2 linked regions of the Homo sapiens genome follow. The protein of the gene in region 2 purifies or fractionates together with the protein of the main gene of each other region. This does not show direct contact. Each region holds a gene or a part of one and is shown on either strand. Other genes may lie near its edges.

Evidence for each region.
Region 1: the proteins of SAMD4A (region 2) and GAN purify together in Homo sapiens (affinity purification with mass spectrometry; 2 studies listed by BioGRID and IntAct, with this or other methods). This does not show direct contact.

Annotation. Positions count from the first base shown.
Region 1 is NC_000016.10:81,387,721-81,391,360, reverse strand, and holds the end of GAN (gigaxonin), read right to left. Parts: 3' UTR 552-3,640; downstream 1-551. UniProt on the Homo sapiens protein: Probable cytoskeletal component that directly or indirectly plays an important role in neurofilament architecture.
Region 2 is NC_000014.9:54,562,430-54,570,275, reverse strand, and holds the start of SAMD4A (protein Smaug homolog 1), read right to left. Parts: upstream 3,149-7,846; 5' UTR 2,938-3,148; intron 2,781-2,937; 5' UTR 2,360-2,780; coding exon 2,164-2,359; intron 1-2,163. UniProt on the Homo sapiens protein: Acts as a translational repressor of SRE-containing messengers.

The sequences.
Region 1 (3,640 bases), on a different chromosome or scaffold from region 2:
CCTTGCCTTCAGTGGAGATCTGTATTTGAATTATCTTTTTCAAGTACTACCAATCTTTGTAGGTTTATTGTCTCTGGACAGCGCAGTAAGAGGGAACTAGAGAAATCTGCTTTCTGCAGATGGAATTCTGCCTCATATTACCAAGCCCTTAATATCAAGGTCCTCTAGTCCTCCGAAATCTATTTTCTCTCTGTCTTCTGAGGAAAGCCAATTTGAAACCATTTTTCAGGGAAGACAGCAAGGAGACTTATGCTGACGGCGATGGAGAGGCTCAGGCAGTCAGCCATGGAAAGACTCAGGCAGTCAGCCATGGAGAGACTCAGGCAGTCAGCGATGGAGAGACTCAGGCAGTCAGCGATGGAAGAGGCTCAGGCAGTGACTGGGGTGTGGCTGCTAAGGGACGGATCTAACATCACAAGCCACGGTCTAGGAGCTGACACCCACACCGTGTAAATGACAGAAACGACAACGTTTCATTCTTAAATCAAATCAAGCTGTATTGATAATGATGATTTAGCAGGAACCACTCTAAAAATCAGAAACAATTAGAATGCCTTCCCCATCAAATTATTTTATTAGGTTAATTAAACAGCTTAAAGATGATTCCTTTTGTGTGGTACCCTTCTAGAAAATATTTCAAGTTTTTAAGTGAACTTCCAATACATAAAACAAAATTACTTTAGCATACACAAATTTCAGATCAAAATACAACACTCTGTTTCTGTTTTCTTACAGTTATAAAATCCAGTCAATACAAACTACATAAAAAAGATAAAACACTTTCACTGATCCTTGGTACAAGAGAACAGCATGATGGCAAAATGTTCCCCAAGCACAGGTCCTGGGTTCGTGAGAAGGGACCAACCCCACAATATACTGAAGCATGTAAACAAAGTGCGTGCTACTTAATTTAGGTTAACAAATCCTTTTTGCATCAGTATTACTTGTAAACCATAAAGCAACTTTTAAAAAGAAAGGTTATTAATTAAAAATTACTTCTGACTGCTAAATTTCTTATCAGCAAGTGAACAGAAAATTATTCCACAAAACAAACTAGTACCTTTGGACCACAGGATGTGAGACGTGACATTTCAATGAAATCAACTTAGCACGACTTCTCTACTATCCTACTGAACTTGGGGAGTACAATTTTACAAGTTGCAGCCTTCTAGCACTTCCAATATTTTGAACTTTCTAAACCTGCCTATTTAGCTATGATTTTCATTGCAAATCCCTGTTTTTCAGTAGTAGGACTTTATTAAAGATAGGATAATATCACACACAATACAATCTTCACTGAATATGTGTCTAAGCAGACCTACTTGGAATTCTACTAGATAATAAAGTTGCAGGATTTAAAAGAAATACTATTCTGCAGGTCCCATGTCAGAAAACACAGATATGTTCAACAGATTGGTGTGGTATTTATATGGTATTCGTGGCATTTTCCTTATAGTATTCAAAGCATCAAAATGACAAATCAAGACTGTTAAAAACCAGTCTTGGACAAGGGTGACAGTCACATACTCGAGGGTCCAGCACAACACTGGCATGAGCCAACAGGAGCCACGCCGGCCACCTGCTGGGCCAGGGACCACTGCAAAGAGCAGCCCTGAATTTGGGAGGGTCAAATCGAATTTACAAATCTTGTTTTCAGGAATTTCCTTGATAGTTCTCTTTCATGGCAGAAGACCTATACCCGTGATGGAAAACAAAAGAATGTACACATTTCTAGTGTGTCATGAATGGGTCTCACTCACAGATAGGTACAGACATCACTGTCACTGCTAACACACAATGAAGTCTGCCTACGCCTACCTGAGGAGCATCCGCGATACCGTTTCTGATGAGGACAGGACTCTGCGGAGGTGGGCAGAGCAGGGGGTGCTTTTGTCAGCTCTGCTGGTCACTTCCAGGCTGCTGGTACACACCCCAACAGTGGCTGCAAAGATTGTTCAAAACTTCTGCTGAGGCCACAATGATTACGGGATGGTTGTCACAATTCACAAAAGGTATGATACAAAAAACAAAGGGTATCACCATTACGTCGCCGGCGAACTGAAGGGGTACAAGACCGAGGAACCAAACACAAGCTGAATTCAAAACGAAAAGAACCCCAGTGGCAGAAAAAGCCACGAATTATTTAATGAAGCAAGTTGTGCTAATAAACAGCCTGTGCTTTTCTTAACTGAAGGTCACTTGATACATTTCCCAACACACAATTTTTATTCAGATTATCTTTGTTTTCATGGAGAGCCTGAATTTTGAGGTACGATCTAGGAAAAAGATGTTATCACCCACACAAATGGAAGGCTCACTTCTTTACTTCTTAAGCTGATGATACCCTTTTGCCCGCCCCATGTACCAGATCCTACATGATTTTTTAAAATAAAACATAAGTCAATTTCAATGAGCATATGCTAGACTAACAATAAATTTATTTTTTGGAGTTTCTTTTGAAGCACAAATTCCTTTTAAAAAAAATATGAAAAGGTGGTCTCTCCTGGAAACAAGCAGTTCTAGTTTCCGATCCCACAACGATTTGGAACATAGTGTGTTTTTAAGTCAGAGCTGAAGAGGAAAGAAGGAAACAAGGGCTGCGCTCCGCTCTGGCGAATGCGAGCTGCAAAGGGACAGAGGAGGACCCACACGGAGGGTCCCCACCCGGCTCTGCGGACAGACATGGCAGAGGGCCTGTCACACAAGAGGCCACCGGGCCGAGCACGTCCGGGAGCCTGGGGCTGCACTGGGTGCTGAGGTAGTGAGCGGGGCCTGTGCCTGCCTGCCCTCCCGGCTTGGAGGGGGAGCCCTGAGGGCCTCTGGGGCTGGCCTGGAAGGTGTCATTCTAGCCTACAGGTGCCTAAGGCGCTGGGATGTGTCCTTGGCGGTGCCTCAGAAGGCACCTGGGTCCAAGTTCTGACCTGGAGCCTTGGGGACAGATCTGACTCTCACAGCCAGGGCCAGCTGGTTGTGGAAAGTGCTAGTATGCAGGTCTGCTCAGGGATCTGTGAGGCTCATGCTCTGGCCATTATGTGGTCTGAAGAACCAGAAGGGCTATTCTCCTCGCCCCCAACAACCCGCCCCAACTGCACCTTTCTTTTCCTTTTTATTTTGGATACATAATTCAAGCAGTAAAAAAACCAGGCTGGAAGAGGGTTGGGACAGAGGAGCAGAGGGCAGGGTGGGAAAGCTATCCCAAGAAGAGTGAGTAAAAACAACGACTCCGAACATGGCCAAAATACCCTTCCTCCACCTTGACGGCAATCCCTAAGCTGGCAGAGAAAGATGCGCCGACTGCGAAGTGCCTGTTTTCTCAGAGATTCCACCTAGCAGTGTCCATGGGGAGCCACAGTGGAACATGGAGAGAACAATCAAGGCTGGTTCAAACGAAAGGTTATTCACCAGTGAAAGAAACGGGGAGAAGACACAGCCGGCTAGCTCTGAAGACATGGTGTGCATCCCAGCCTATAAATCTCTAATGATCTTGATCCCGTGTTTCCCCTATTTCTGAGCAGACCTTTTTTTTTAATTTTTTATTTTTTTGTGAGACAGAGTCCCCCTCTGTCGCCCAGGCTGGAGTACAGTGGCACAATCCTGGCTCACTTCAACCTCTGCCTCCTGGGGTCAAGTGATTCTCCTC
Region 2 (7,846 bases):
TATGACAACTCCTGATGCTCTTTATGATCCCCACACTCCGAAAGTAAACCAAATCATCACATGACCTCCTAAGAAATTTCTGTCCTGGCCACACAACAAAACAACTGCAAAGATTTCCATGCAGGCAAAACGTCTAGGCGAAGGATTAATCCAGAAACTGGAGACCAGTTCCTATCTTACACAATGGTTCTATATTTTGTATATCTACATCATTTAGCAGCATGAACAGGTGGGTATCTTATACAAATAAGTATGGCCAAACATGTCTTAAGGGAAAAAAAATGCCAAGTGACTTCAAAAAATTCACAGTTCAATTTTTTAAATTATGAGATTTTTAAAATTAGGCCACCTTATTTTAACATTTAACTGTTTTACTTACTAACCTGGTGGCTGCTCTATTGGGAAAAGTCATCTCCATTACTCAAAGGGAAAAAGTGCTGCTCCAACATTTGAATAACCTAAAGATGAGTTTGAACAGTCCCTACCAGCACTGAAATCAAGCATTCAACCTAAATGACTCTGCGTAAATCCTCTGCAATCTATAAAATGCAAAAGTTTATATAACCTTGTTTGTCAAACCTGAGAAAGTAAAACCGAGCAGGTAAACCAGGCTTCCCGCTGAAATTAAGGAAGGAAGCAAAGAGGGTGGATCATCAGTTACCCAATTATGCTTCCACACCCCAGTGAAGGAGGCTGGCCCTCCAGCTATTTATAAACGTGGAGCTCAACCAAAGGGGGCCCTGTCATCGCCACCCCAGTGAGTCCTGGTGTGAGCTGGGAGGCTCGGGCTCAATGGAATCTCCCTCAATGTGGCCCTCCATACTTGGCCATGCAGGATCTTTCGGGTGCAGTCCTGTCTGGTCAGGAAAAGAACTGTGAAGATTTCCAGCGGTCACTTCCACCCTATGATTCTATATATGGAAGCATCCCATTCTAGTGTTTTCACCATCGTGCACACCATACTAGGGAGGAGGAATGAGTAGGCCGGCTCGCTTCTTGCTGCTCTGAAGGCACACTCACTTTAGTGTCTCCCAGGCCCCACTGCCCTGGACTGGACCTTGTCATCAAATGGCAGCCCAGACCTCTGCTGAGCTTTGCAGGCTCGCAGCTCCAACATGGAACAGCTGGAAGAGGACCCTGCATTCTTTTCTCTGCATAAACACTGGGGACTCTGTTCACCCTCCTGCAGCAGCATGAACTAAAGAATTTCCCCCTATCCAAAATCACAACCATCAGACTTTCCCCCCATCCCCCAGCCTCCTCCTACCCTCCAGGATATAATTTCAGTCTGTCACCACCCACGCTAGCAAATAGGAAACTGCTGGACCTTTCGACTATATTCACTTTCCATACTAGTTGAGGTGTCTGTAAATACTAGCAGGGTAATATGAAACGATTCTGTTCTATTCAGTAAAGTTTCCTAACGAAAAGCATTAAGTAACCCACTTCATGCCTGTCCTTTCTCCAAGACCCTTTTTTTCTACAAGATCCGTATCAATATGGATAATGTCACGAGCAGTAAGCTTAACCGCATTATATATATATATATATATATATATATATATATATATATATATATATATATGCTGCAAATGTCATTTTACTAGTCTCTAGCGTCACCTGCATATTATTCTGAAGACGAAGCTCTAAAACCAGAATATCTGTGGGGAAAAATGAATAATAAAATTGGATTTTCATGTACTCCTCACACAGCCTTATCCAAGCTTGGCTTCTGAAGGGCAGTCCCGGGCATCTATCATGTGTTGCTGAAATCCAGCGAGCCACGTTGCCCAAAAGAAGGAGGAGGAAGGAAAAAACACACACACCCAGAAAATCCAGACTCTACGTGACCTGACTTACTTATTTCCCAGGAAACTGCATGAGAGAAAAATCAATCATTCATGCTACCGTAGCTACCACACGGAAAGGGCTGACGGAGTTCACAGTGGGCAAAATCCCAAAGCGGCCGGCGGAGGTAAGTAGGTGGGGGGCGGTAGTGGGGGGACACCCGGAGGGGGTGGATTCCGAGGGCCTCGGGGCCACGCCGTCCAGGTCCCGGCGCGGCTGGCAGGGACTGGCCTCGGCCTGGCCCGAGGCAGAGAAGCGGAGGGAGGAGCGGGGGTTGGGCAGGCGGGACGGCGGCGGCGGCCGCCGCACACTTACCGGGGCTGTTGGCCTCGCGTTCGAGGACGTGCAGCTCGGCGCAGTCGGCCAGCGAGTGCTCCAGGCAGAGCTGGAGGAAGCGGGCCTGGGTCTGGCTCACGCGCTTGAGCAGCGACAGCAGCGCAACAGTCTGCTCGCACTCGTTCCAGCCCTTAAACCAGCCCGCCAGCACCCCGACCTGGTCGCGAAACATCATGGTTAGGGGGCCGCCCTCGGTCTACAGAGCCCCCTGGGCGCCCCAGCCCGCCCCGCCCGCCCCAAAGTTTGGCGGAGCCGCAGCCCCGCGGCCGGAGACGCGTTCCTGTTCCAAGGTGGCTCTGGTGCCCGGACGCTGCAGGTACTGCCTGGGCTCCTGCCTCTCTTGTCTGGTTTCAGTTACGTTCCGGTGGTTCTGGCTGATTTCCCCAGAGACGATGACAGACAGTAGCACGGAAATGTTTCTTTAAAAAAAAAAACGACTTTTTAAAAATCCCCCACAAGGCACACAACTGAATGAAGAATGCTTTCTCCCCCCTTCTTGCAGCTTTGGGATGGTGATTTCCGGCGTCCTGGGGTCTCCTCCCCGCTGGGCGGCAACTCGGACCCTTCACGCCCGCATTCCCGAGCGGCGATCACCACTGGAAGGAGAGAAAGAGCTGCAGTGAGACCTCGGCTAGCGGAGGAGCGCGCCCTGGGGGGACGAGGGCATCAGAGGGTGCTGGGGCCAGGGGAGGGGGCGTCCCGCGGAAGGTTGGGTTCGCCGAAATCCAGCCGCCCCCTCCGCCCCCTCCGCACCCGATGTGGGAGATGGGCTATTCCCCACCGGGTAACAGCGAGAAGCCTGCTTCCCAGGTGCGGGAGGAGACCCCGCGGCTTCCTGTTGCTGCCGCTGCCAACGGCTGGTGCTCCCCTCACGGCCCGCCTGGGGTGGCCTCGGGCGCCGTGCTTAAGAACGCCAGCACCAGCAACAGATCTTCCCCGCGCAGAAAACTTGCAATGCGGCTGCGAAGGGGCGCGGGGGTGGGGGTGGGAGCTAATGCAAAGCAGAGGCGGAGGCAGCGGCAGCCCGAGTTCCTTCCTCCTCCTCTTACTCCTCCTCCTCCTCCCAGAGAAGCAGCCGAGCGGCTGCAGCTCCATCTACAGCAACAGCCAGCATCTCCACCGCCAGGCGCCCCTCTGGATTTAGGCCGTGAGCAGCCGCGGCAGCAGCTCGAGACAAAAATAAACTCTCTCCACCCAAAGCTCCGCGCCCAGCGGGCGGCGGCGCAACCCAGAGCCCCGGCTCCCCCGCGCCGCGCCGCACCAGCCCACCCGGGAGGTCTCCCTGGGCCTGCTCCGGCCGGAGCGGTCACTGTGCGCGCGCGTGTGCGTGTGTGTGTGCGCGCGTGTGTGGCAGGCATCCTGCCGCCGCCGCCTACGGGCTGGTCTGTCCGGCCCGGAGCCTCGCCCGCGCGTCGCAGGCCGAGGGCGGCACAGCGCTGGGCACACGCCCCGCGAGGGGACGGCCGGGGTCCGCAGCGCTGCTCCCTTCGGCCAGCGGGGCGGCCCCGCGGGGAATGCGGATCGGCGCCGCAGGCACACGCCCCCCAACGACAGCAAAGAAAGTTCGGCTGCGGGGGTTCCCCCAGTCCCATCCCGGTTCTCGTGGCCGCCGCCGGCGGGGAGGAGAACCCAGCGACTCAGCCTTCAAGGAGCCGCTAGCTTCCAACAACACGCTGCTTCCGGCTCCCAGAACTTCTCGGGCGGAGGGGGAAGCCCCCGGGGAGGGGACCCCCAGTGACCCGCGGGTCCCCCGCCGAGGGCCGTAGGGAGGGAGCGCTCACCTCGGCGCGGCTCATCCCGGCGGCTCGGGGGCCCTTGCGCGGGTCCGGGGCCGCGGCGGCTCTCAGCGGGGTTGGGGGCGCCCGGAGCGCCGGCCGCGGGCCATGCCGTCGGGGCGGGCGGCGCGGGGAGAGTGCGGTGCTTCGAGTCGGGGCCGCTGCAGCCGCCGCTGCTGCTGCCTCCAGTGTCGGCTCGCGGAGGACTGAGCCGCCCGAGCCGGAGCTCCCCACATGCTACTGATTAACATACACCATTACATCATGGGCTTGGCAGGGAGCGCCCGAGCGGGGGGAGAGGAACCCGGGCGGCGGCGACGGCACGCGGGGGGAGCCGGGGGGAGGAACCCCGGACCCGGCGCAGGGCGGGGGGACGGATTCCTAAGTGGGGACCAGAAAAAGGGGAGGGGAGCGGAGTGGGAGGAGCTGGTGGCGCAGAGGGGTCGGGTAGAAGGAACCTCCGAGAGGAACGAAGAAGTTCGGGGAAGAGGACGGGTCCGGGTGAATTTCTTCCTGCGGCCGCCTGCGTGTTCTGGAGGGGTCGGGACACTCAAGCCACTGGAGCCCCGGCAGAAAGGGACCCGAGGGCGCTCGGGCGGGGGCGGTGCTGCCACCCGCTGCTTGTCCTTGGGAATGTGGTTCGTCCGCTCGGCTGACCCTCGGCCCTTCTGGGGCCCCGGGGTGGCCGAGGTGTTTGGCCCCCGGGCGGTGAGACCCGAGGTCACTGCCGCACTTGCTGGGATGGGTTCCGGGGGTCGTGGAGGCGAAGGGTTCACGAGGCTGAGGGGCAGTGCGCAGGGTTGGACCTGCCCAGGCGCTAGGTTCCGTGCCGCCCTAGTCCAAGGGCCTGGCCCGGGTCGGGTGCCGGATGCCCTTTGCTCTGGCGCAGGCTCCTAGAGGCCGGCCCGGCGCCTGGCTGAGTCCCACTCTTCCCCGGGGAGGTGGCCGAACTCCTGAGACCGGTCGGGGGAGCTGTGCCTGGCGCGCGGGCTGCGGCTTCTGGCCTGGAGCGGAGGCGAGCGCCGCCCTGGGCGACAAAGAGGCGGGGCGAGGCCACCTGTCAGCGCTTAGGCGTCGCCAGGCCTCGCAACCTTCACCTGGATCTGGAGAGTGCGCAGGGCCGCGGCCACACCGGGGCTTCAGGTCCTTGCCGCGCGAGAGGCGAGGAGGGCGCAGCGCAGAGGCTGAGTGGCGCAGGGTGGGCTGCGAAAGTGCCTCTGCTAGTCTTGAAAGTAAAGGTTTGGTTAAAAATACCCTAAACCCTAAAAACCTCTGTACCTCCTGATATGGGTTGAATATTCGCAAGAAGGACTGGATGACTAAATCTGGGCTATCTCCGTGATTTCAGAGGAAACACTGCTCCCTCCAGCAACTTGAGGCTTTGTTTATACGGGAGTAATTCTGAGAAGGCAGTGAAACGCGTGTTTCAGACCCAGCCTTTCCTACTCCTGCTAATCCACTGTTTTGAAGAGAAAGTATCTGAGATATTATTCCACTAATTAACACTTTTGTTTTCCAACTCCGGCATATGTCCCTGGAATTTAAATGCTTTCTTCCCTTCCTCCTCAAATTTAGTTTCTGCAGCGTATAGTTCGTTTCAGACACGTGATAGCACCTAACCATCTGTTAGGGTTTTTGAAAGGTCTTGTCGAGGTCGAGCTGCAAAAATGTGGATTTTTTAAAAGTTAATTATTAACCAGACAGGTGAGGTATCCGCTTAATTTAATGAATATTTTGCCCTATTTAGAAAACAGGAAACCTGAAGTCAGTGTTTTATTTTTGTTTTGTTTTGTTACTGTAGAGGCAGAAAGGCTTGATAGATTTTCTCCAAGAGATTACTATGAATTAGCTAATTCTTAGTAATAACTTATATCAGGAAATAGGGAGGATTAGAGAGTATGGTCTACTTCGGTATATACCTTGCTATAAATTGTAGGCAAAGCAGATGTCGTTCTAGGGCTTTTGGAAGCTCCCAAGAGTGAATTTTTTTTAAAAGAAAGTGAAAAAACCAGAAATTTCATTAACATGTATTTTCACCTGCAGCTTACTAAAGGTATAGTAAAACTAAAAACAAAACAACAAAAAAAAAAAACAAAACTTAAGCTGGTGAATGAAAATACTGCCATCTACTGGAAAAGTGTAGTTCTTACACCAGCCTTTGACCTAGGAAAAGACATTGATTTATCTCATTTTTGAATTCTTACTGTTCAGGACACTCTAAGACATATAAAGTTGAGCATGACATGAGCTGTCAGTACTCTTGTATTTGTGTGTTAACAATTCCTTTCCTCTGGGCAAAGGAAAGGGAGTATAAATAAAACCCAGGGATGTGGCCTCACTCTTCCCCAGAGTGAAGTCATCACTCTAAAGGAAAAAAAAAATACATTCATTAAATATAAGGTATTGTATTAAGTGTGGATTTTTCCTATGTCAACCTGGACCCAGTATTATTGATAAATAAGAAGTGCCTAACACTTACTATATAGTCACATCACTTGAAAAATGAATGAAAATATCCTTTCATTAGAAGAGATATTACTATGTCTATGTTCACTGTATTCCTATTTATTCATTTGAAAAATACTTATTGTGTCACCTTGTGCCAGGCACTGGGTTAGGCAATAAGTACCCTGAGTATTCTGAGTACCAAGTACAGGCACTGAATACACGATGGGGTACTAACCAAGAGATACTTTATATGAATAAAACACAGATCAGATTATCATGAATTAACATTCCCAACATTATTTTGCTTTTCTCCTCCTTAGAATCTGGGAAGGGAAGAAATTGTTTTCTGAGTGAATAATACTTTTGATCAAATAATTAAAATGTTCAGATGTTCCAAAGATTACTAATTCTAGATAAATCATTGACATATTTATAAATCACTGTTTAAGAGGATGCCTGGGTATTATTTGCATAAATAAGAAATCCCAGAGATTTCATGTTTATTTTAAATTTATATTTCTTCTAGAATAATCTAAAACAAAAGAAATGCATTAGATATAAAAACAGAGCTGTAAGCTTTAATTATTTGCTTTATAAATGAGCAAAAGTATTAAAATCTCTACATAAAGGTAAATGACAATGGATAATTGCCATTCATTTAATCATTTGATAAATATATATTGAATACTTGTTCTGGGCCAAGTCCTCAAGATAAAATATTAAGACATTTGGTATTTTTTATCTAACACAAAAGCCCATATAGCAAACATATATATGATTATATTATATAGCAAGAAAATATATAAATAAAATTTCATATATTCATTACACATTTTAAATGCATATATATGCCATAGGAAAATGTGTGAAAAGATTTACACCAAAATGGTAACTAATGGTGATCTTCTCTGCATGATAGGATTTCTGAGTATTGTTGTCTTGTTTCTCCATATTTTCTAACTTTTCTACTGTGAGTAAGAAAACTAAAACCAAAACACTACGTGAGTTCAGGCCTACTGTCTAAAACTTAATTTTAAAAGAAACTAAAGAAACTCTACTATAAAATTTAGGTCTATAACTCCCAAGAATTGTTTGAGCCTGTATCACTTCCTACCTAGGTCTTATCCTAGACTCAGTAGTGGGTCTCCCTTCCTCACTTCTGATCTCTCCACTCTCTAGCTCAGACATTTTCTGTGGTTTCTGAATAGACACTGAATACATTCCAGACTATTTGGGCTGGCATACAAAGACTCCAGGATTCGGCCACTGTCTGCCCTTCTGCACGTCTCTTCTACATTTCATTCACTGATTCATTCACAGAAAGTATTTGTTGAGTATAAATCACTGTGCTAGGCAATTAGAAGAGACAAAGGTAGAAGAAGAACCATGCTCTCTTCAACCTCCAGTGTGTAGCATAAATTATGTTCTTGGCACGTGCG